7 linked regions of the Homo sapiens genome follow. The protein of the gene in region 1 purifies or fractionates together with the protein of each later gene. This does not show direct contact. Each region holds a gene or a part of one and is shown in the gene's direction. Other genes may lie near its edges. The genes, in order: BMP2K, NUMB, NDUFA12, UTP25, PIP, REPS2 and PPP1R2B.

Region 1 (3,500 bases):
AGGAGAGAGCAGAGTATAGGTCAAAGGCCAGTTTAAAGGTCCAGATCAGGCAGGGTGCGGTGGCTCATGCCTGTAATCCAAGCACTTTGGGTGACCAGGGCAGGCGGATCACGAGGTCAGGAGATCAAGACCATCCTAGCCAACATGGTGAAACCTCATCTCTACTAAAAATATAAAAATTATCTAGGTGTGGTGGTGCGCGCCTGTAATCCCAGCTACTTGGGAGGCTGAGGCAGGAGAATGGCTTGAACTTGGGAGGCAGAGATTGCAGCGAGCTGAGATCATGCCACTGCACTCCAGCCTGGCAACAGAGCGAGACTCCATCTCACACACACACACACACACACACACAAAAAGTTCAGATCAGTATTTGCCGAACTCTTTGTCATTTATCTACTCTAGTTAAAATTTTTTGCTTTATTCACATAGTGCTTTTTTCTTTAATAAATTAGTAACATTATTGTGTATAATAAAATTAAAACATATTATACATTTTAAACAAATAAGATCCACTAAAATATAAAGTATGAAATGTAAATAGTAATCTAATAAATTTGCTAAGTCCCCTAGTGATAAGAATGGAATAATTTTCCTCATTAAAAATCAGATATTCTGCTTGATAATTGCTTAAAGATACTGATGAGGCTATTGTACTAATTAGATGATTGCTTTTTTCCACTTTTGATGCTAACTAGCATAAAAAATGTCAAATCTAGTTTATTTAGTTGGAAAATAGAAAAGATATTAACTGTCTTCTCTGACGTAGCATATATATTGTGTATACTTCATATTCTAAAAGTCTGTCAGCTCCTGGAAGCAAAGTTATGTCACTGTTGAGAATGGGATGATGAATTGGAAATCTGTCTAAACTTCTGATTAGTTAAAAAGAAAGTTGGATATCCAAGGATTTGAGGCATACACTGGCATGCAAGGTGCTGATGCCTGTAATGTATATTAATTACTATAGCACTGTCTGCTTTATTCTCATTTGTAGTGATGCTATTCGACAAATCACAGGTTTGATACATTAGACACTTTTCTTTTAATTTCTGTGTAACTATTAAAAAATAAGTTATCACAAAAATCATCTTGCATTCCCCAGGTTAGGAAATATTGGGTTGCATATCTGGGAAAGTGCATAAGACTTGTTTTACTCCACTCCTATGAAATTTATGTATTTAAGGATGTGTTAGAAAAAATTATACACTCAGCCACTAAAGGTTAGAAATGTGGAACTTCATGTGGGAACATTGCTCCAGCCACACTTGGTACGTCAATGCTACTTCATTAATATTATACCTATTTAACATCAGATTGTATGTTGAGTATAGTATCTTCTGTAACAATTTAAAAAGAGCTCTAAACTAATGTTCCTGCTTATGACAAAGTCAGTGGAAGAAGAGAATTGGGGTTAAATGTTTGTCTCTCAGTGGATAAGGGCTATTTGAGTAGAATATAAGAAACCAAGTAGTAGTTCCTTAGACAGAGGGAAAGAGTCACTATCTTTGTTGGAATAATTATTTCCTTTTCTTTTCTACTATCTTTTGCTAAACTTTCTACTCTTCCACCATGTTAATTTATCTTTAGTATGAATATCAGAGAGTATTACTGTGTTATATTCCAATAATAGTTAAAATAAACATCATCTATGCATACGTTATCTTCTTATGATATAATTGCCCTGTTATATTAGTTATCTGTTGATGCCTAATAAATTATCTCAAAACTTAATGGTTTAAAACAGCAGTTAACATTTATTATCTTACATACTTTCTTTGGATCAGAAATTTAGGGGTGGCTTAACAGGGTGGTTGTGTCTGGTAAGGCTGGGTCGGCTGTCCTCTGAAGGCTTGGCTGGTGATAAAGGATGTAATTTACAAGATAGTTCACTCACATGGCTTTGGGCAGGAGGCTTCAGTCCCCTGCCACATGGATTTCTTCAAAAGACTGCTTGAGTTTTCTCTTTGCCAAGGCAAAAATTATTTTGAACAAGGAATTATTGATTCTGGTTTCTCCCTCAATAAGTGATCCAAGAGACAGAGCAAGGAGGAATCTGAAATGTCTTTTTAGACCTAGTCTCAGCAGTCATGGGCTGCTGCTTGTGCCATATTTCATTTGTTAGAATTGAGTCACTAGATCTAGCTCATGTTCAAGGGCAGTGAAATTCGGTTTCACCCTTCGAAGGGAGGAATGTCAGATAACTTGTAGACATTTTTTAATACCTGTTTAAACTAGGTTAAGGTGATAACCCTATTGAGTTACAGTCTGCCAATAGGAATCCATAAATTTATTTTGGGAATAGGAAGAGGGTGATTCATATAGGGAATCCGAAAGTTCTAAAAGGAATGATTGACAGACAGGAGGGGGGATGCCCATCTCTCTTTGAGTTTTACCCACTGTGATCTGTTTTTTTTTTTCCTTCAATTTTCTGGGTAAAAACATCTGATCTGTGTTTTAAGGAGAGATGGGACTCTGTCACACAGAGGCAGGCTCAGACTGGCAGTTAATGCATCCAGAATGGACTTTAAACTGAATTGTTTTTTAAATTAAGATACCTAAGTTCTATTTACTAAGCAAGTCTATTTACTTGTAGGTAACTTACTATTTATTTTCCTCTGTTATATGCTAGCCTTCAGTAAGTATTTAAGTATCCTATTCTTGGCTCAGATATGCTGAAGGGGCTTGGACTAAGGGATTAAATAGACGACTTTTGCCTTTCTTTTCTCTTCTAAGACCTGTTTGGTGGCAATGGCAATGAGCTCTCAACGGTTAGGTAAATTTAGGGGATCAGTTAAGACTTGTGAAATTGAGATACTACTTTGAACATTAGGATTCTCCCTTCATTACTACTGTTAAGAGGATTTGCATATGAATTATGAAAGGAACTTAATAGCTTTCTTACATTGTCTCGTTCTTATGCTATACAGTCATGCATTGCATAACAATGGGGACATGTTCTAAGAAATTGCATCATTAGGCAATTTTATTGTTGTATGAACATCATAGAGTGCATTTACACAAACTTAGATGGTATAGCCTACTACACATCTAGGCTTTATTATATAGCTTATTGCTCTTACGCTACAAACCTGTATAGCATGTTACTATATTTAGTACTATAGACAATTGTAACAGAATGGTAAGTATTTTTGTATCTAAACATAGAAAAGGTAAAATAAAAATATTGTATAAAGGATTAAAAATGGTACATCTGTATAGGGCACTTACCATGAATGGAGCTTAGAGGACTGGAAGTTTTTCTGGGTGGGTCAATGAGTGAGTCGTGAGTGAACGTGAAGGCCTAGGACATTACTGTACACTATTATAGACTTGACTTTATAAACACTGCATTCTTAGAACACACTAAATTTATATAAAATTTTTTTCTTCTTCAATAATAAATTAACCTTAGTTTACTGTGACTTTTTTACTTTATAAACTTTGAAAATTTAAAAACATTTTGACTCTTTGGTTATAACACAAAACACAAACATGTACAA
Region 2 (3,500 bases), on another chromosome or scaffold:
TTGTTAAACTCCTAAACTCAGGCAGTCCTCCCAAAGTGTTGGGATTACAGGCATGAGCTACCGTGCTCAGGCTATCTTACGTTCTTTTAACCAAGATCAAAGTCTTCAATTACCTGAGTAGGACAGCAAAATCTTAATTATGGTAACTTGATTATATTAAGGTGAATTATAGTTAATTTGGAACATTTCTAGTTTAATTAGGGAAGAAGAGGGAAAAACTGTAGAATACTGCTTAGCTCTGAATAAAGGCAAAGCTGGGGCAACCAGGGACACAGAAATCAGCTAAATTTGTAACTTTATTTAAGATTGGCCTTGGTTACCTTTGACTTTGGAAAAGTAATAGTGATACTTTCGTCTAGTCACTTGTGCATATGTACATCTCAGGTACATTTTGATTTTATCATGTAGATAATTTGTGAAGGTTTATTTACTTAATTTATTTTATTTAAAGATGCCCAGGCTGGAGTGCAGTGGCACAATCTCGGCTCACTGAAATCTCCACCTCCCAGGTTCAAGCAATTGTCCTGCGTCAGGCTACCGAGTAGCTGGGACTACAGGGGCATGCCACTATGCCTGGCTAATTTTTGTTGTAGGTTTTTTTTTTTTTTTTTTAGACGGTGTCTCCTCTGTTGCCCAGGCTGGAGTGCAGTGGCTCAATCTTGGCTCACTGCAACCTCCGCCTTGTGGGTTCAAGTAATTCTCCTGCTTTAGCCTCCCGAATAGCTGGGACTACAGGCACACGCCACCACACCTGGCTAGTTTTTTGTATTTTTAGTAGAGATGGGGTTTCACCATATTGGCCAGGCTGGTATTGAACTCCTGACCTCGTGATCTGCCTGCCTCAGCCTCCCGAAGTGTAGATTTGTTTTTTGTTTTTTTTTTTTTTTTTTTTTGAGACAGAGTCCTGCTCTGTCGCCCAGGATAGAGTGCAATGGTGCAATCTTGGCTTACTGCAACCTCCGCCTCCTGGGTTCAAGCAATTCTCCTGCCTCAGCCTCTCAAGTAGCTGGGATTACAGGTGCCAACTAGCATGCCCAGCTAACTTTTTTGTATTTTTAGTAGAGACGGGATTTCACCGTGTTGCTCAGGCTAGTCTTGAACTCCTGGCCTCAAGTGATCCTCCTGCCTCGGCCTCCCAAAGTGCTGGGATTACAGGCGTGAGTCACTGCGTTTGGTTTATTTACTTAATTTCTTTTAATATAAGCGACTTTGTTATAAGAAGTTTTAACTCCCAGTATTCTGTTTTGTTTTTTTTTTTAAGATGGGGTCTCGCTCTGTCTTCCAGGCTGGAGTGCTGTGGCACGATCTCGGCTCACTGCAACCTCCGCCTATCAGGTTCAAGCGATTATCCTGCCTTCCGAGTAGCTGGGATTACAGGCGTGTGCCACCACGCCCGGCTAATTTTTGTATTTTTAGTAGAAACAGGGTTCCGCCATATTGGCCAGGCTGATCTCAAACTCCTGACCTCAAGTAATCCACCTGCCTTGGCCTCCCAAAGTGTTGGGATTACAGGCGTGAGCCACTGCGCCCAGCCTAGCTCCCAGTATTCTTTAATCAAGATAAAACTTTTTTTTCCTCCAAACTAGTATCTCACAGAACCATAGAATAGCCTGCTGATGACAGAAATATATTTGTGACTGCCATGTTATGAAATTGAAAGAGCATCATTTATGTCCAGAGGCAGCATGACAGAATGGACAAAATTCATTATAATTGTGTGACCATGATTTTGAATCTTGACTTTATCGTTAATTTACTAATTGAGCAGTTTATTAAACTTCTTTTAGATTCAGTTTCGTCATCCATAAAATGGAGCTTATGCTATCCTCCACATCAGGGTGATGGTGAGAATTAAATGAAAAGCATTTTGTGTAGTGTATAGCATTTTGCCCATAGTGGGCACTTAACAAATTGTAATTGTTAATTATTAATAATTATCACATTAGATCTATTATAGACTTCTCTTTTAGGATGGGCTAATATTCCAGATACTGTTATTGTAAGCATTGTGGCAGCTAGGAAAACCAGAGTCGACTTTAAAACATTACAGGTATTTTAAGGCTGGGCGCGGTGGCTCACATCTGTAATCCCAGCACTTTGGGAGGCCAAAGTGGGCGGATCACCTGAGGTCAGGAGTTCGAGACCAGCCTGGCCAACATGGCGAAAGCCCGTGTCTACTAAAAATACAAAAATTAGCTGGGAGTAGTGGTGCATGCCTGTAATCCCAGCTACTCAGGAGGCTGAGGCAGGAGAATTGCTTGAACTTGGGAGGCAGAGGTTGCAGTGAGCCGAGCCACTGCACTCCAGCCTGGGCGACAGAGTGTGACTCTGTATCAAAAAACAAACACCAAAACATTACATATATTTTAAACATTTACTACTTCAGTTTGTTTTTGTGGTTGGTTTATTTTGGTGTATTAGACTGAAACATGGGGTAAATGAAGCTAATATTTTGTTGTGTGGTCACAGGCTGTTTATCTATCATATTATAGTCAGCCCTTATCTGTGTATTCTGCATCCTTGGATTCAACCAGCAGTTGATAGAAAATATTTGGAAAGAAAACCCAATAAAAAATAAAACAATACAAATAATACGAATAAATACAGTATAAGTATTTACATAGCTTTTACATTGTATTAGGTATTATATTAATAAGTAATCTAGAGATTATATAACATATATGGGAGAATGTGTGCAGGTTATATGCAAATACAGGTATCAGTGGGGGATTGATTCCAGGACCCCAATATACCAAAATCCATAGATGCACAGGTCACTTATATAAGATGGTGTAGTATTTACATATAACCTGCACACATTCTCCCGTATACTTTGAATTATTTCTCTAGATTAATTATAATACTTAATATTAGGTTGGTGCAAAAGTAATTACAGCTTTTGCCATTAAAAGTAATAGCAAAAACACAATTACTTTTACACCAACCTAATATGATATAAATGTTATGTACATAGTTATACTGTATTGTTTAGGGTATAATGACAAGAAAGAAAAGTAGGTACATGTTCATTACAACCATCCATTTTTTTTTCCGAATATATTTGATGCAAGATTGGTTGAATCCTCCTGTGTGGGACCCATGGATACAGAGGACCGACTGTACTATGCCATTATACATAAGGAACTGGGATATCTGCAGATTTTGGTATCCATGGGGTCCTGGATCGAGTCCCCCTCAGATACCAAGATGTGACTGTACCTGGTCCTCTTCCAAATACATGTGAGTTTTTGACAACAGTGGAAACCATTAATCCTACTACTAGAAAAAAACAATTGAGCATTATATTATTTACTGATTTTGTTATTAAAATCATTGCTTTTATTGAATTATTTTATTTACTGATATTGTTAATGATTTTAAATTAGTTCTAAATGCCAGTTAGAACCAGCTTATTTTTCCCTGGAGTTAATATATTTATCTTCGCAATTCAAGTAGAAATAGTTTTTATTTCAGAATTTAAGCCCTGTATCTTCCTTAGA
Region 3 (3,500 bases), on another chromosome or scaffold:
GATCAAATAGGTTAATATTTGTAAAGTGTATAGATTAGTGCCCATGACTTATAAATGCTATCTATAAGTATTAAATAAATTAGGCAAATAACCCGCTTTTAAAACATATATGGTGAACATTTTCTCAAGTCATAAAATATTCTCTGTCTCTCTCTCTCTTCTCTTTTTTTAGAAATGGGATCCCCCGCTGTCCAGGCACGATCATGGCTTTCTGCAGCCTTGAACTCCTGGGCTCATGTGATCCCTGCCTCAGCCTCCCAAGTAGCTAGGACTACAGGTGCCTGCCACCATGCCTGGCTAATTTTTGCATTTTTTGTAGACATGGGGTCTCATGTTGCCCAGGCTGGTCTCGAACTCATGGCCTCAAGCGATCCTCCCACCTTGGCCTCCAGAAGTGCTAGGATTACAGGTGTGAGGCACCATACCTGGCCAAAATATTATCTATAGCATAAATGTTAATAATGCCTTAGTCTTCCATCATATGGATATGCCATGAGCTATTCCCTTTATTTTTGGTTTTGTTCTTTCCATTCTTTCACTGTTATAAATAAAGCTCTGATAAATATCCTTGTACATGAGTATTCATATCCTCATTTCCTTAAATGGAAATGGATCCACCAGGAGTATACATGTTTTATAAGTTTTTGATACCTGCTGCCAAATTGCCCTCTAGAAGGGCTATACCAATTTATATTCTCAGGATAAATATATTGAATAGTATATGAGTACTGATTTCTCTTTAAGTTCACTGATTCTGGGTTTTATTTTTTAAAATCTTTGCTAATTTAGCAAGTAAAAAATTATACCTTAATGTGCATTGCCTTGATTAAACTTCATTGTTTGCCACTATAATTTTTTCTTTGTTGACATCTCTTGATGTTTTTTGTCCAGTTTTCTATTGGATATTTGACTTTTTCTGATTTGTAATGATAGATGAACCTTTTTTCTGTATATTACAAATATTTTCCCCTGTTTCTTTTAGTCTTTAATCCTGTTTATAGTGTTTTAGGACATACACTTTTCAATTTTAAAAACAATTTTAATTTTTTGGGTACATAGTAGGTGTATATATTATGGGGTGAGATGTTTTGACACAGGCATGCAATATGTGATCATCACATCATGGAAAATGGGGTACCCATCCCTTCAAGCATTTGTCCTTTGTGTTACAAACAATCCAATTATACTCTTTTAGTTGTTTTAAAATGTACAATTAAGTTATTATAGACTATAGTCACTGTGTTGTGCTGTCAAATACTAGGTCTTATTCATTCTTTCTGACTATTTTTTTTTATACCCATTAACCATCCCCACCTCCCCCTAATCCCCAAACCAACCCCACTACCCTTCCCAGCCTCTGGTAATCATTCTTCTACTCTCTATCTCCATGAGTGCAATTGTTTTGAGTTTTAAGTATCACAAATAAATGAGAACATGCAATGTTTGTCTTTCTGTACCTGGCTTATTTCACTTAACGTAATGATCTCCAGTTCCATCCATGTTGTTACTAATGACAGGATGTTGTTCTTTTTTATGGCTGAATAGTACCCCATTGTATTTAAGTATCACATTTTCTTTACTCATTCATCTGTTGACAGACACTTAGGTTGCTTCCAAATTTTGGCTGTTGTGAACAATGCTGCAACAAACATCGGAGTGCAAAAGTCTCTTCGATATACTGATTTCCTTTCATTTAGGTTATACCCAGCAGCATCATTGCTGAATCATATGGTAGCTCAATTTTTAGTTTTTTGAGGAACTTCCTAACTGTTCTCTATAATGGTTGTACTAACTTACATTCCCACCAACGTGTTTGAGGGTTCCCTTTTCTCCGTATCCTCCCAGCATTTATTATTGCCTGTCTTTTGTATAAAAGCCATTTTAACTGGGATGAGATAATATCTCATTGTAGGTTTTTTTTACTGCTCCTTGTGGACCAGAGCGGTAGCCTTAATCTCAGCACTTTGGGAGGCCGAGGCGGGCAAATCACTGGAGGCCAGGAGTTCGAGACCAGCCTGGACAACATGGTGAAACCCCGTCTCTACTAAAAATAAAAAAATTAGCCCGGCATGATGGCATGCGCCTGTAATCCCAGCTACTCGGGAGGCTGAGGCAGGAGAATCACTTGAGCCCAGGAGGCAGAGGTTGCAGTGAGCCAAGATATCACCACTGCACTCCAGCCTGCGCCACAGAGCAAGACTCTGTCTCAAAAAAAAAAAAAAAAAAAAAGACCCAAGAGTCTGTTTTGCAAGTAAAACTCTCTGGTGTGGCAATCTGAAAGATATGATTTTTTTTTACCCCTTATTTAATAATAAAATAACAAGGGTTATATTTGCCTAGCAGACTATAAACATTTCCTTATTTCTTATAATTCTTTATAAACTGCCATAATGGGTATAGTTTATTATTTATTAATTCCCTGATTCTTGCATGTAGGCTTGCTAGGATAAATATTTTCAGATTTTGTGTATTGTGATAAAAATTATCTTTTCCTTTTTTGGAGCATTTTCCATTTCTCCATGAGCTCTTCACTTCCTCACTTAAGTAACTGAATAGGCATAAGCTTGGGACTATGGTTCCTTAAATATCATTTTAACCTTCCGGAGTCTTGACAGCAATTTTTTGAATAAAATTTTTCTTTAGTTAAGCTGACTCAGTGAGGTAAAAGTTAAATATTTCAGCTGTGCCGTAAGCTCACATAAAGCCCCTTGATAAGTGACAGCCTTGACTTTAACAGCTAATCCCTCCTCTGAGTGGTTAGTGGAGCCTGGCTCACCACTATCGTCTCATAAGGGCTTCAGCGCTCGTGTGCTCATATGAATGGTTACAGTTTATTGGTCCAGGTCACTTTCACTAATCCCCAGCTTCCTTTAGAGGATGTAAGACAGACACTGACCTAGCTTGTACAGCCTTCTGCATTCTTCATTGTATAAGCTGATCATGATACAATTATCTTTAGACATAAACATAGCAACTGTAATCATATTTTATCTCTATTCAGACTGGTTTTTAGTCAGTTACCTAGCTATATCTATCAATTACTGCTAGCAAATATTCTTAGGTTTACATAGCAACAAAAATTTTTTCTCATTAGCTTTAGTTTTAGTTATTCCACTGAAACATCCTCCTCTTGTCCTTTTCTCTGCAGCTAGATAATCACTTTTCCCCCCACCCCCGGGCTGCAGTTCTGTGGCTGTCTTCTCATTTTCTTTTCCCCCAATAAGGTCATCTCTGTCTTGTGAGCTCCAGGTCTTAGAGGCTGGGACAAATTCTGTCTTCCCTTCTTTCCCATGTAAACCCCTCAGCTTAGCTTCCTGCACTCTGTCCCACAAACTTTGATTCCTCCTTTCCCTGTCATTAGCAGCAGCATCGGTGGTCTCTTCCCTTTCAACTCCAGGTATCCAGCTTTTAGGTCTGATTTCTGGAACATATCCTCTTAAATTGTTAAGCACTTATGACTGAAATATTTGTGAATTGGGGGTCGATTTAACTTTTTTCTC
Region 4 (3,500 bases), on another chromosome or scaffold:
ACGATGAAGATGGTGGTAGCGATGTCAGTGTGGAAGAAGAGATGGCTGCAGAGTCTACTGAAAGTCCAGAGAGTAAGTGTCTTTACTATAGGCTCATCATCTTTGCCAGAACTATAGACAGTTCATCTCATGAGCATGGTACCTTATATACTGTGTGAGTTGGATGAAAGGACATGAATCCAAAATAGGGATTTACCCTTGTTGGGTTTGATTGTATCTTTGAGAATCTGATGGAAACACAGAACCTTCTTAGCACAGCTAGGCAGAAATAACATTTTTGCTTGTAATTTCAGGGACTTCATCAGTACTAGTGAAAGACCTCCTAATACAGAGGAAGGAGAACACAGTTCTGTCTTTGTGACTGTCTGAATTTATTGAAGAGGTTACTGTTCTTCTCTTAGGGAGACCAAGTTTGATGGAAGATAGACATAAATATATATAAAAAATTTCAAACAGTAGATTTGCGATTGCATGGAACAGCTAGATGTAAGGTGTTGAAGAGAGGCAGAGTGGTTGAACACTGCCAGTGTAAATTAGGGAAGGCTTCAGGGACTCTGTGTCACTCAGACTTGAAGGTGACTTTTTTCTTTAACTTCAAAATCACCTTCATTGAGGTATCATTTACATACAGTAAAACGTATCCAATTTAAATATACAGTCTGACAGGTTTTGACAAAGGTATACATCCAAATCAAGATACAGAACATTTCCATTACCTCCAAAAATTTTTCTTATCCTTTTGCAGTCAGTTCCCCACCCTTGGCATCAGGCAGCCACTGACCCGCCTTCTGTCACTGTAGATTAGTTTTGCCTGTTCTAGAAATTCATATAAATTGAATCATACAGTATGACTCCTTTTGTGTCTAGCTATTTTTGCTTCTCATGTTTTTCTAATTTATTTGTGTTGTGCATGTATTAGTCACTTACTACTTTTTAGTTGCTGGAATAGCATTCCATTGTCTGAATATAGCTGGGTGACTTTTTACTCATTATTTTAATGCCTATTTTTCTTATAGCCTTATTTTTTTTTTATACCTTCTGGTATTATATATCATTCCAGGTATTTTAACTGATCAGTTTTACTGAGATAAAAATTCATTGACTTACACTTAGGAGTTTGTTTTGTTTGTTTCTATTTTTCTTTGCTTTTTTGGATTTTTAAAAATGAAAATTTTTTTATCATTATAAAAATAATATATATTTACTGTAAACATTTAAGAGGGTAATATAGTTACCCTCTATCCCTGCTACCCAGAGATAAACACCTTTAGCATTGTATATAACCTTTCAGACTACATTTTTATGATTATATATGAGTATGTATATATATTTATGTGTATCTGTATAATGGCCTTATACATTTCCGTAACTTCCTACATCTGTGACTGTGGATTCACATTAGCTTCTTAATTACATAGTATTCCATTGTAAAAATATGATTGTACCCCATTGATAGACCCTTTTTCCCCCAGTTATTTCTTATAATCAGTGCTGCTTTGAACATCCTCTCATGTACATCTTAGTGTACTATGTCTGGTTACTATTTTAGAATAAGTTCCTAGAACTAGAAGTGGGTATATTAATTCGAAATCTCCAGAGAAACAGAACCGGTAGGATATGTGTGTATATGAGAAAGAGATCTGGCTCACGCCTGTAATCCCAACACTTTGGGAGGCTGAGGCAGGCAGATCGATTGAGCTTAGGAGTTTGAGACCAGCCTGGCCAACATGGCGAAACCCCATCTCTACAGAAAAATACAAAAATTAGCCAGGCATGGTGGTGCATGCCTGTAGTTTCAGCTACTCGGGAGCCTGAGGTGGAAAAATCACTTGAGCCCAAGAGGTGGAGGTTGCAGTGAGCCAAGATGACACCACTGCACTGCAGCCTGGGTGACAGAGCCAGACCCTGTCTCAATATATAAATAAATAAATAAACGCTCATCCAAAAATACCCTCGCAGAAACATCCAAAATAATGTTTGGCCAGATATCTGGGCACTGTGTCCCAGCCAAATTGAGACATAAAACCCACCATCATGCATCATGTGTTGATGATTAGGCTTAATTTTGAAATCTATGTTTTCTACCTGAATTTACCTAAATATAAATAGTATCAATGAACGCTATTGTTGGTATAGCCTAAGGAAATAAATTTTGTCAACAGAAGTATAATTTGTGAGTAAATAATTTTATAAAATGTTTCTCAAAACTGCAGATGTAGCTTTATCTGCTGACCCTGAGGGAAAAGAAGATGGGGAAGAGCCACCGGGCACATCACAAACATCCCCCGAAGAGTTCACAGATGCAAAACACGAGTCACTGTTCAGCCTGGAAACCAATTTTCTGGAAGAGGAAAGTGGAGACAACTCTTCTTTGAAAGCCTCTCAAGGTCATAGCACAGTGTGTGTTATTTGAATTCACCAGGTGCTTAGTATGGAATTTGTGTACTAATACACATTGAATCTATTATTGGAACAAACAGCAATAAAAACAGTTTAGTGGCTAGATCTAGAGCTGGGAAAAATAATTCTAAAAGGTATTTTGTGTTTCTCAGTGTTTAGGGGTTGGACGGGACATTTAGGAGAACAAACAAGAATGATGGTAGGGAAGGCCAGCTTCCCAGGCCTCACATTTTCATTATTGGAGTCAGGGGAAGATTTCTGATTTTCTCCCCAAGTAGGGAAAGAGAAAGAAAAAGAGGAAAAAATACTTCCTCTACCCCTCACTTGCTGTTCCTTTTTGGAGCAGTAATTTTTCAGATTTGCAAGACCCAGGGGTGGCTAATCTGAGTGGTCTTTATTACCAGGGAGACCCTCAAAAGCCAAAAAGCCCTACCCTGTGTCTCCTGCCTCCCACAGACTCTTGACCACTCCTGTGACCAAATGGCAGTCACGTGGTCAAGACGTGCCTATGGCGGGCTTTGATGGGTTCCTGCTGTCTCAAGTCCAGTTTCTCAGCCAGTGTCTGGGTGGGCAAGTCAGGTTGGTCTCGTTCTGTATCCTGATTGCCTTCATTGATCTCATTGCCATTCTTCAACCCAGCTTTACCTTTAATGAAACAGAAATTTTAATCCTCATTTGACTCATTTAGTTCTGTTGGTTATTTTGCAGGAGAAGAAGTGACAGGTAGAATTTGTAGATTTTAGTACAAACTCCATTCTGAACCATTAAAACTTAGAAACTTTGGAGGAAACATTAGGAAGCTTGACTGTCCCATAATTTCTGTGGTTGTTTTGCTCATACAGATATATTAGCATCTAGAATTCTTATGTCCTGTTGTTCACTCTTAGATATTTAATACAAGATGCATTTCATTTGAAATTTTACTGTTTGGATGCTTGGATGGGTCATTTAACTTTGTTCTGTTTCTTATGAGTGGGACTGGGAGAGAAGGTTGGGTGGCTAGCTCAGAATACTAAAGATTACTTGGAGTGCAGATGCTATCATGTGGATCATTTGTTCAATTCAGTGGAGTATTGGTCATATCTGTGTGTCCCAGTGCA
Region 5 (2,581 bases), on another chromosome or scaffold:
AGCCCCATAATTTCCCTCCCTTGCCCATCCTGTGCCCCTTGCCCTGTTCATGGCTCCCCCCTCACTCAAAGATTGGTCTCTGATCCTGGTGTTCTGATTCTCTCTTCCCACAATCAGTCGGAAGATCATAATAAAGAATTTTGACATTCCCAAGTCAGTACGTCCAAATGACGAAGTCACTGCAGTGCTTGCAGTTCAAACAGAATTGAAAGAATGCATGGTGGTAAGTAGAGGACTGGGGGCGTGACTTCAAAAGATAATTCAACTCCTTGATTATAAACATAATTTAATCTCTCACTTTAATAATGTACAGTGTACTTAATGAAACATTCTCACTTATGTTATGCTACTTGAGACTCAGAACAACTGTGGGAGCTTGGGACAGATGACTTCTCATTTTCCAGATGAAGAAGTTCGAATCCAGAGAAGTCTAGGATAAATAAGAAGGAAAGGAAGAAGGAATAGGAAGTGAGAAAGAGGGAAAAAGAAAAAAGTGTAAGAGCTAGTAGAGAAGCAGTTAGAGTCCTTCCAAGGTCCTGAGCATGTTTAGTTTAGGATGGAGGGAGGGGAGTTCTCAGAAGAGAAAGCAGCAACTCCACACCATAGGTTGAGGTGGGTGGGCAGAAGAGGACATGCAGGATATGACTCCTCCTCTCCAGTAAGCACTGAGCGACTCTACTGTCCTCTTGCCTTCTTCTGCTCCTTTGCTCTGGGTCACCAGAAGTGGACTCTTGTTCCAGCCTCCCCACCCTGACAAGGAGCTCGTAATCATCTCCTCCTTTTCCCCACGTTCAGAAGTCCAATCTCTGAACAAGGTCAGAGGTTTTCAAATGGTAATGTGTCTAAAACTCACTCGGGGATCTTGTTAAAATTCAGAGTTTCATTCAGCAGGTCTGGGGAGAGATTAGAACTTCTGGATTTTAACAGACGCCCAAGGTACACCAAGGCTGTGCCCAAAGGATCACATTTTTGAGCAGCTTGGGATTAGAGCATTATCCCTCCTGTCTAGCTGCCAAGGGCCAGAAGTCAAATAGACTTATGCAGTTATTAATCCACAGTGACTCTTCCCTGGGACACTGGTTGTGTGTCCTTTTCCTAGTCATTGATCTCAGATGTCACAAGCATGCAAACTGCCCCCACTACCTTTGTTCTAGGGCCAAGACCCATGCATCTCCCATCTCCCCTACTCCCTCCCCAGACCCTTCATGAAGGACACCTTCTATCAGGCAGCACAAGTATTTCCTTACAACATAAGTTTCCTAATTCAAATGAGACTTAAGGACAATGATTACATGTAAAACAACATTGAGAACATGAAGATTGCTATTCAGTCAACTGCATTCTAGAAATATCCCCACACCTGTAAAGAAAAATTCCTGGTCAATGAGCAAAGAATATCACAGCTGCTTTGTCAAATTTTTCTATTTTCAGTCCAAGAATCTGAGACATGTACACTAATTTGGGGTAGGAGCAAGGCTGAATCATAATTTTTCAACTCTGTATTTTGTTTATCACAAACACAGGTGAGAATGAGAATAAGAACATGTACATAATGTGTACATAAAATTTTTGTGAAAATGGTGGTTTCTGGTGGTAATAGTTAATGGTAGTGGTAGGTATAATAAGATATGTTTGAATCAATAAAATTACATGTGACATAATTTTGTGCTTTTGTGATTAATAAAAGTATGCTTTTAAGAATCATGCTAGTACTCTAAAATAAAGCAATCTTTTCAAAACCCACCTAAGCACAACTAAAAGAATAAGAAATCTTTAGACTAACTGACTTTGCAAACTAGAAATAATTTACAGGAAAGGAAATTTTGTTAATTCTAGTCAACAAATTTTTATTTGTGGCTTCATTTTTCAAAGTATAACTATTTTTAAATTTTTATTAAAATATATTTATATAACTATAAAATTCTTACCATCTAATCCTCATTTTTTATCATTTATAATGTTTTCTGTAACTGAATTTTTGAAAAAGTGAGGTTTAGACTCATATTTATTTATTTTAGAATTAGAATAGAATATACCTACAATCGTATATTTGAATATAAAGATTGCATAATCCTTTAAAGCTGAAGGAAACTTGTGGCAAAAACAATGCTTAAACATTTTTGTGCTACAGGCCATTTCGTTGGTTTCATGAAGTTTATGAAACATTTATCAGAAAATTGCTTCTAAATGTATAAAGTGCATTGGATTACAGAGAGAAACTACCACATTGAGTAACAGTGACTAACTTGTAAAAAATAAATTTGTGATGCAGTAAGGTATGTGTTTCTTTATGCACACATTAGCTGGGAAAGCAATACATTTAAAATATAGAAGAGTTGAATTTTATTCTATGAACACATTATCTGTGTGATGGATGTTGTTACTTAGCTTGAAGAAGTACATTAAACTGCACTGGTCTTTGGCAACACGTCCCACGTGCCATGCTAGGCATGCAACGGATTCTGATCTTTTATTGTACAAGTGGTGTAAATTCTGATTCATGACGATATGTTGTTGCTAATGTAACAGAAAGGTAAACAAGGCCGGGCACAGTGGCTTGTGCCTGTAATCCCAGCACTTT
Region 6 (3,500 bases), on another chromosome or scaffold:
TCAGCCTCCCAAAGTGCTGGGATTACAGGCGTGAGCCACCATGCCTGGCCTTAACATATTTTTTAATAGACTATTTTTTTTTTTCAGAGCAGTTTTAGGTTCACAGCAAAATTTAGCAGAGTACCCATATATCCCCTGCCCCGACACACCCGTAGCTTTCCTTACTCTCAACGTCCCACATCAGAATAATAGAGTTTTTACAATTGATGAACCTACATTGACACCTCATTATTCCCCAAAGTCTATATATTAGGGCTCACTCTTGGTGTTGTACATTCTGTGGGTTTGGACAAATGTATAATGACGGTTCCACCATTGTAGTATCATACAGAATAGTTTCACTGCTCTAAAAATCTGTGCTCTATTGATTCATCCCTCCCTCTCCACTAACATGTGGCAATCACTGATTTTTTTTTTTTTTTTACTGTCCCCATAGTTTTGCCTTTTTTAGAATGTCATATAGTTGGAGTCATACAGTATATAGGCTTTTCACTTTGGCTTCTTTCATGTAGTACTATGCACTTAAAATTCCTTCATGTCTTTTTATGGTTTGGTGGCTCATTTCTTTATAGTGCTGAATAATATTCCATTGTCTGCATGTACTACAATTTATTTATTCACCTACTGAAGGATATCTTGGTTGCTTCCAAGTTTGGGCAATTATGGATAAAGCTGTTATAAACATCTGTATGCAGCCTTTTTTGTTACATGCAGGAGATAAGCTTTTGACTCATTTGGGTAAATAGCAAGGGGCATGATTGCTAGATTGTATGGTGAGAGTATATTTAGTTTTATAAGAAACTGCCAAACTGCTTTCCAAAGTGATTGTACCATTTTGCGTTCCCATCAGCAATGCATTGGTTTCTTTACAGAGTATTTATTTTCCTTTGCTGACTTATTTTAACAGCAGGATTCTAGCACTAGGTGGAAAACGTATATGAGTTTCTGATGTGTGTCAGGTACTGTCCTAGGTGCTGAGGTTATAATAGTGAATCCAACACAATCTCTGTCTTCATGGAGCTTATGTTCTCATGTGAATGTTTTTACACTTCAGAGTTTTTATTTGGTTGAGAAAAGACTTGAAATATAACATCCAAAAATAAAATGTCAGCCTGGTGCTGTGGCGCACGCCTGTAGTCCCAGTGCTTTGGGAGACCAAGGATGGGAGGATTGCTTGAGGCCAGGACTTTGAGATCAGCCTGGGTAACATAGTGAGACCCTGTCTCTACACAAAATAAAATAGCCGGGCATGGTGGCATGCGCTTGTAGTCCTAGCTACTCTGGAGGCTGAGGCAGGAGAATTGCTTGAGCCCAGGAGTTCAAGGTTATAGTGAACTATGATCGCACCATTGCTCTCCAGCGTAGGCAACAGAGCAAAACCCTGTATCAAAATAAAGTAAAATAAGCCTGTCAAACCCAAACCAAATACATGTCAAACCCAGACCTGATTCTTACCACACACTATGCCTTCTAGTAAAATTCTGGCCTTTGAATACCAACAAAATACTTCATAACCTGGGAAACCAACTACTCTAACGTTTGTTGCTCTGTCTTGAAATACTAAACAAAACCATTTACCTGTTCGTAGACATATTTTCTTTTTCTAGTTTAAAAGTATCCCATTCTGCCATTTTCCACCTAGTGCTAGAATCCTGCTCTTAAAATAAGTCAGCACAGGGAAATAAATACTCTATAAAGAGACCAAAAGACCTTTCAAAATAGGCTATGGCCAGGCCCAGTGGCTCACGCCTATAAATCCCAGCACTTTGGGAGTCTGAGGTCGGAGGATTACTTGAGCCCAGGAGTTCTAGACTAGCCTGGGCAAGATGGCAAAACCCCATCTACACACACACACACACACACACACACACACACACACACACACACACACACACACACACACCCCCGCTACCTACCTCTCTCTGGGGCATGCCTGTAGTCCCAGCTATTCTGGAGGCTGAGGTGGGAGGATCCCTTGAGCCCAGGAGTTTGAGGCTGCAATGAGCCATTATGACACCACTGCACTCCAGCCTGGGTGAAAGAGCCAGACCCTGTCTCATAAAATAAATAAGTAAATAAATAAAATATCTACCTTAAAGCAGCAAGTTTTGTATTTGATGTAATGAATTAACAGACCGCTTTATAATATCTATCTTTTAGGATAGTGTCAGTCTCTTGGAATGCTGTGCATGAGTCATCATTAAAATTGGTTTTCATTAAAAAAATTTTTTTAACATATACACATCTTATTGGAGTTTTCTTTTAAAATTCAAAAATGGGAACATTATTTTTTCAAAGCCAAGTAACAGAAGAGTATATAAAAAAGTCAATTTTGTGCATATCTTTTTACATTTTCTATGCTCATGTAAAACATACATGACTTATGTAATTATACACATATGCTCCAGATCTCATCTGTATTAATTTTTTAAATTATACTTTAGTTCTGGGATACACTTGGAGAACGTGCAGTTTTGTTACATAGGTATATATATGTGCCATGGTGATTTGCTGCACCCATCAACCCATCATCTACATTAGGTATTTCTCCTAATGCTATCTCTCCCCTAGCCCTGCACCCCTGAATAGGCCCCGGTGTGTGATGTTTCCCTCCCTGTGTCCATGTTTTCTCATTGTTCAGCTCCCACTTATGAGTGAGAACATGCGGTGTTTGGTTTTCTGTTCCTGTGTTAGTTTGCTGAGAATGATGGTTTCCGGCTTCATCCATGTTGGTTTTCATTTTTGTGATAGTTAATTCTTGGACATTAAGGGGAATAATTATAAAACACTGTTGCTTCCATATCAAGGGAAATCACTGAATGATTAAAAAAAACCCAATAAGTGTTGTCTGATTGTTTAAACAGCTTTCATTGAGGTAAATAAGTAAAACAAAGCTGTGAGAAGTAGGGAATATTTAAACAATTTGTGCGCATGCCCTCACCTTTGGGGAGAAGTCTTTTCTGAAGGCTCTCTTCTGATTTTTTGAAGCAACTGTTTAATCATTAAAGAAAATTATAGGTAAAAGACAAATTCTTGTGAACTTTCGCTCATTGCTAGATTATTAGGCAGAACTATTTTTTAAAAATTTAAATGAAACAACTTTATATTTTTACATCTTTAGATCATATCATTTTGTAACTATACTTTAGGGAAATAGAGGCCAGCATATTAAAACAGTAACTAGGGGCTGGGCAGGGTGGCTCATTGCCTGTAATCCTAGCACTTTGGGAGGCCGAGGCGGGCAGATCAGCTGAGGTCAGGAGTTTGAAACCAGCCTGGCCAACATAGCGAAACCCCATCTCTACTAAAAATACAAAAATTAGCAGGAGAATTGCTTGAACCGGAGAGGCGAAGGTTGCAGTGAGCTGAGATCAGGCCATTGCACTCCAGCCTGGGAGACAAGAGTGAAACTCTGTCTCAAAAACAAACAAACCAAAAAACAAACACACACACACACACACACACACACACACACACACACACACACAAACACACAAACC
Region 7 (4,010 bases), on another chromosome or scaffold:
AGGAACAAAAATATAGAGAAAAATTGCCTAAAAAGACAAAAATCAAGAATTATGGATGTTCAAGTGGGAACTGAGCAAAAACAAGGGGTAGAAAACTTATTCAAAGAAATAATAAGAGAAAACTCTCCAAAACATGAGAAAGAAAAATACCTAGGTACAGGAAGGTCAGAGAACACCAAACAGATTCAACCCAAATAAGAGTACTTTAAAGGATATAATAATCAAATTCTCAAGTCAAGGACAAAGAGATACTCCTAAAAGCAACAAGAGAAAAGCAGCAAATGACATATAAAGAAGCTCCAATTCATCTGGCAACAAACTTCTCAACAGAAACCACACAGGCCAGAAGGGAGTAGGATGACATTTTGAAAGTGCTGAAAGAAAGTAACTGCCATCAAAGACTACTGTATCCAGCAAAGCTATCATTCAAACAGGAGGGATAAAGTCTTTCTCAGACGAACAAAAGCAGAGAGAATTCAACACCAAACCCATCCTATAAAAAATGCTAAACGGAATTCTTTTTTTTTTTTCTTTTGAGACAGAGACTCAGTCTGTCACCCAGGTTGGAGTGCAATGGCATGATCTCAGCTCACTGCAACCTCCACCTTCCAGGTTCAAGTAATTCTCCTGCCTCAGCCTCCCAAGTAGCTGAGATTACAGACACGCACCACCATGCCTAGCTAATTTTTGTATTTTAATAGAGACGAGGTTTCACCATGTTGGCCAGGCTGGTCTCAAACTCTTGACCTCAAGTGATCTGACCACCTCAGCCTCCCAAAGTGCTGGGATTACAGGTATGAGCCACCGTGCCACATCGGGAATTCTTCGATAAGAAAAACCACCATCACCACCGCCACCACCATGCAAAAAGAAAACATTTGAGGTATAAAACCCACTGTAAGTACACAGAAAAATCCAGAATGCCCTAATACTTGTAAAGGTGGTGTGAAACCCACTTATAACTCTAGTATAAAGCCTAAAAGACAAATCAAAAACTTTAATAGCTACAGTAATCGTCAAGAGTTAGGCAATATAAAAATATATTAATTGAGACAATATAAAGTCAAAATGTGGTGGGGGGATAAAGTTTGTTTCTATTGTGTTTTCGTGCTCTGTAAGTTTTCATCTCTTTACAACTTGTTACATCTATAAAGATGTTTTTTTTTGTAAGCCTCATGGTGTCCACAGTACAAAAGAACTATGAAAAAGGGCGTCGGATTTGCTCCACCCCCCCCACCCCCACCACACCCACCACCCCCCACCCACCACTCCCCGCGGAGCTCTAGGCCGGCATCTCTCCGCGAGCCGCGGGTCAAGTGCCGGCGGCTAATGGTGCGCGAGGAGCCGCCACCCATTCGGCGTTGGCTCTGGCGTCGGGGTCGTTGTGACAACCGCTCCAGTAGCCGTTTCCGAGGCAGCAGGTGCGGCCGCTTTAGCCCTGAGCGGGCTCTGCGGCTGCCTGCGAGTCTCTGCTGTGCCGACCCTTCTCTTCGCGGACCCCACGCCAAGCAGCGACCCTGAGGCGACAGCCGGAGCGCCCGGCAATGGCGGCCTCGACGGCCTCCCACCGGCCCATCAAGGGGATCTTGAAGAACAAGACCTCTACGACTTCCTCTATGGTGGCGTCGGCCGAACAGCCCCGCAGGAGTGTCGACGAGGAGCTGAGCAAAAAATCCCAGAAGTGGGATGAAATTAACATCTTGGCGACCTATCATCCAGCAGACAAAGGCTATGGTTTAATGAAAATAGATGAACCAAGCCCTCCTTACCATAGTATGATGGGTGATGATGAAGATGCGTGTAGGGACACCGAGACCACTGAAGCCATGGCGCCAGACATCCTAGCCAAGAAATTAGCTGCTGCTGAAGGCTTGGAGCCAAAGTACCGGATTCAGGAACAAGAAAGCAGTGGAGAGGAGGATAGTGACCTCTCACCTGAAGAACGAGAAAAAAAGCGACAATTTGAAATGAGAAGGAAGCTTCACTACAATGAAGGACTCAATATCAAACTAGCCAGACAATTAATTTCAAAAGACCTACATGATGATGATGAAGATGAAGAAATGTTAGAGACTGCAGATGGAGAAAGCATGAATACGGAAGAATCAAATCAAGGATCTACTCCAAGTGACCAACAGCAAAACAAATTACGAAGTTCATAGAAGAGATTTGTTCAACACTGCAATTGTTTGTTAGATATAAACCCTGTGACTATAATACATTGCTTCTTGTTCTCCACAATTCATGACTTAAGTACCAAAATGCATACCAGTTATTATATATTGCCAAGAATTAAATGATAAACTTAGAGACTAATTAGACTGAAAATGCCTAATTGATATATATATTCTTATGCCTAGTACTTTACCACAAATACAGTGTAATATCATCAGTCCAAAACTGCATTACTTTCATAAGAACACTGGTTAATTTGTATAAGATATTATAGAGCTTTTTATGCTTTAGAAGTTAAGCAATATCTTTGGGGGGGAACTAATTTATTTTCATCACTCGAAATGTGGTAGCTCTTACAAAGTTTGTTGATTTGTTTTTTTAAAAATCAAAAGCCAGTTGAACAACAGGATATATAGACTTATAAATATTCAAGCTGAATCGTATTTTAACACTTCTCTTCAACTTGATTTGTCTGTTTAATTGAAAAGAATTGTAAGAGTTACTGTTGCATTTTCTGACCTACTACCTTTAAAATTCCTGTTGAGTTTCTTTGTGTTTACAAGGAAAGGACTGAACTTTTTCTCATCAAAACTAGCTTTTTTCCCCACAAATAAATTATCAGGTTAAACTTTCACCAATGTCTGCTCTGTTTTTTGGCAGGGGGTTTGTTTGTTTTTGTTTTTTAATGTTTTTGGTACACTGGGCAGACTTCAGAGCAGTTTTTTAAAAAATAAATATTCTAATGTAGCTATCTCGCCATTCCCTTTAAATACCTGTCTTAACCTCCTGCTTTTATTTCCTACTCCTTTCCACACATACACACACAATCTTTTACCTTTTAAAGGATCATTAAGATTGTCACGACATTAGGAACTCTTTCTGTCACTCTTCTGTCATTTGCTGCTGTGTGGAAATTCTTATTTTGACCATCAATGCCTATGAATTCTTCTAATACATGAAGAAAATAGATTGAGTAGCAGCAGTACTATAGGCAGGAAATACAGTTTAACTGCTGAATTTCTATGCCTCTCGATTTACAGATTGCTAATTAAATTGCTATTATTAGTTTGGCTTAATTAGACTTAAGAAAACAACCGAGGGTTTTTTTTTGTTTTTTGAGGGTTTTCTTTGCATGAGAATTGTATGTAACCAGTGATATGATTATTCCTGAATGTACAGACAGAAGTAAGCCTGGACATTTTTTAATTTAAAAACTTTAAATAGTCCCTGCTTTAAGGGAATATGATAATGTATACTATGACAAATGTACTTTATTCCTCTAACGCAGTAAGAATTATGTGGAATATTTTCCTTAAACGAAGTGCAGGAAAGCCCTGTGTGTCTTGGTTTGGTTATGGTTTCATTTCTAGCCATACAATTGATGAATCGTATACAATTTTCGTTAGTACCAAAATAATCTGTTATATGAACAGACTTCTAAAATAATGTCTGTATAATATATATTTATATATATAAAATAAGGCTTTTATTGAACAGCTTATCTTCCACTTGCAGGTTTATAGAAATATCAGTATTTCAAAATAAATAAAAAGTGGGAGAATTCTTTGCTGTTAGAAGAATGTGGTTATTATTTTGATTTTTTTAAATGAGATATATAATCAAAGTACTGCTGAACTATAAGTGCAGTATTCTAAACATTTCATCTAGTAATACCACTGATTTAGAAACAAAACTGTTTATCTCTGGTTTCTGAATTTAGAATTTTGGGATTACCTGTTTAAATCTGTCTTGGGGGATGTAGAGATTAAGTCTGTACATATGTGTGCACATATATTCATGCAACCTCTGATTTTGGTTTTCTTGTTTCTGAGTTC

Evidence for each region.
Region 2: the proteins of BMP2K (region 1) and NUMB purify together in Homo sapiens (affinity purification with mass spectrometry; 2 studies listed by BioGRID and IntAct, with this or other methods). This does not show direct contact.
Region 3: the proteins of BMP2K (region 1) and NDUFA12 purify together in Homo sapiens (affinity purification with mass spectrometry, with the first as the bait; one large-scale study listed by BioGRID). This does not show direct contact.
Region 4: the proteins of BMP2K (region 1) and UTP25 purify together in Homo sapiens (affinity purification with mass spectrometry, with the first as the bait; one large-scale study listed by BioGRID). This does not show direct contact.
Region 5: the proteins of BMP2K (region 1) and PIP purify together in Homo sapiens (co-immunoprecipitation; one large-scale study listed by IntAct). This does not show direct contact.
Region 6: the proteins of BMP2K (region 1) and REPS2 purify together in Homo sapiens (affinity purification with mass spectrometry, with the first as the bait; one large-scale study listed by BioGRID). This does not show direct contact.
Region 7: the proteins of BMP2K (region 1) and PPP1R2B purify together in Homo sapiens (affinity purification with mass spectrometry, with the first as the bait; one large-scale study listed by BioGRID). This does not show direct contact.

The regions. Positions count from the first base shown.
Region 1 is NC_000004.12:78,873,850-78,877,349, forward strand, and holds part of BMP2K (BMP-2-inducible protein kinase), read left to right. Parts: intron 1-3,500. UniProt on the Homo sapiens protein: May be involved in osteoblast differentiation.
Region 2 is NC_000014.9:73,448,547-73,452,046, reverse strand, and holds part of NUMB (protein numb homolog), read left to right. Parts: intron 1-3,500. UniProt on the Homo sapiens protein: Regulates clathrin-mediated receptor endocytosis. Plays a role in the process of neurogenesis.
Region 3 is NC_000012.12:94,972,698-94,976,197, reverse strand, and holds part of NDUFA12 (NADH dehydrogenase [ubiquinone] 1 alpha subcomplex subunit 12), read left to right. Parts: intron 1-3,500. UniProt on the Homo sapiens protein: Accessory subunit of the mitochondrial membrane respiratory chain NADH dehydrogenase (Complex I), that is believed not to be involved in catalysis. Complex I functions in the transfer of electrons from NADH to the respiratory chain.
Region 4 is NC_000001.11:209,830,972-209,834,471, forward strand, and holds part of UTP25 (U3 small nucleolar RNA-associated protein 25 homolog), read left to right. Parts: coding exon 1-72; intron 73-2,213; coding exon 2,214-2,387; intron 2,388-3,500. UniProt on the Homo sapiens protein: Component of the ribosomal small subunit processome for the biogenesis of ribosomes, functions in pre-ribosomal RNA (pre-rRNA) processing. Essential for embryonic development in part through the regulation of p53 pathway.
Region 5 is NC_000007.14:143,135,077-143,137,657, forward strand, and holds part of PIP (prolactin-inducible protein precursor), read left to right. Parts: intron 1-117; coding exon 118-223; intron 224-2,581.
Region 6 is NC_000023.11:16,949,658-16,953,157, forward strand, and holds part of REPS2 (ralBP1-associated Eps domain-containing protein 2), read left to right. Parts: intron 1-3,500. UniProt on the Homo sapiens protein: Involved in ligand-dependent receptor mediated endocytosis of the EGF and insulin receptors as part of the Ral signaling pathway. By controlling growth factor receptors endocytosis may regulate cell survival.
Region 7 is NC_000005.10:156,849,019-156,853,028, forward strand, and holds PPP1R2B (protein phosphatase inhibitor 2 family member B), read left to right. Parts: upstream 1-1,276; 5' UTR 1,277-1,544; coding exon 1,545-2,162; 3' UTR 2,163-3,510; downstream 3,511-4,010. UniProt on the Homo sapiens protein: Inhibitor of protein-phosphatase 1.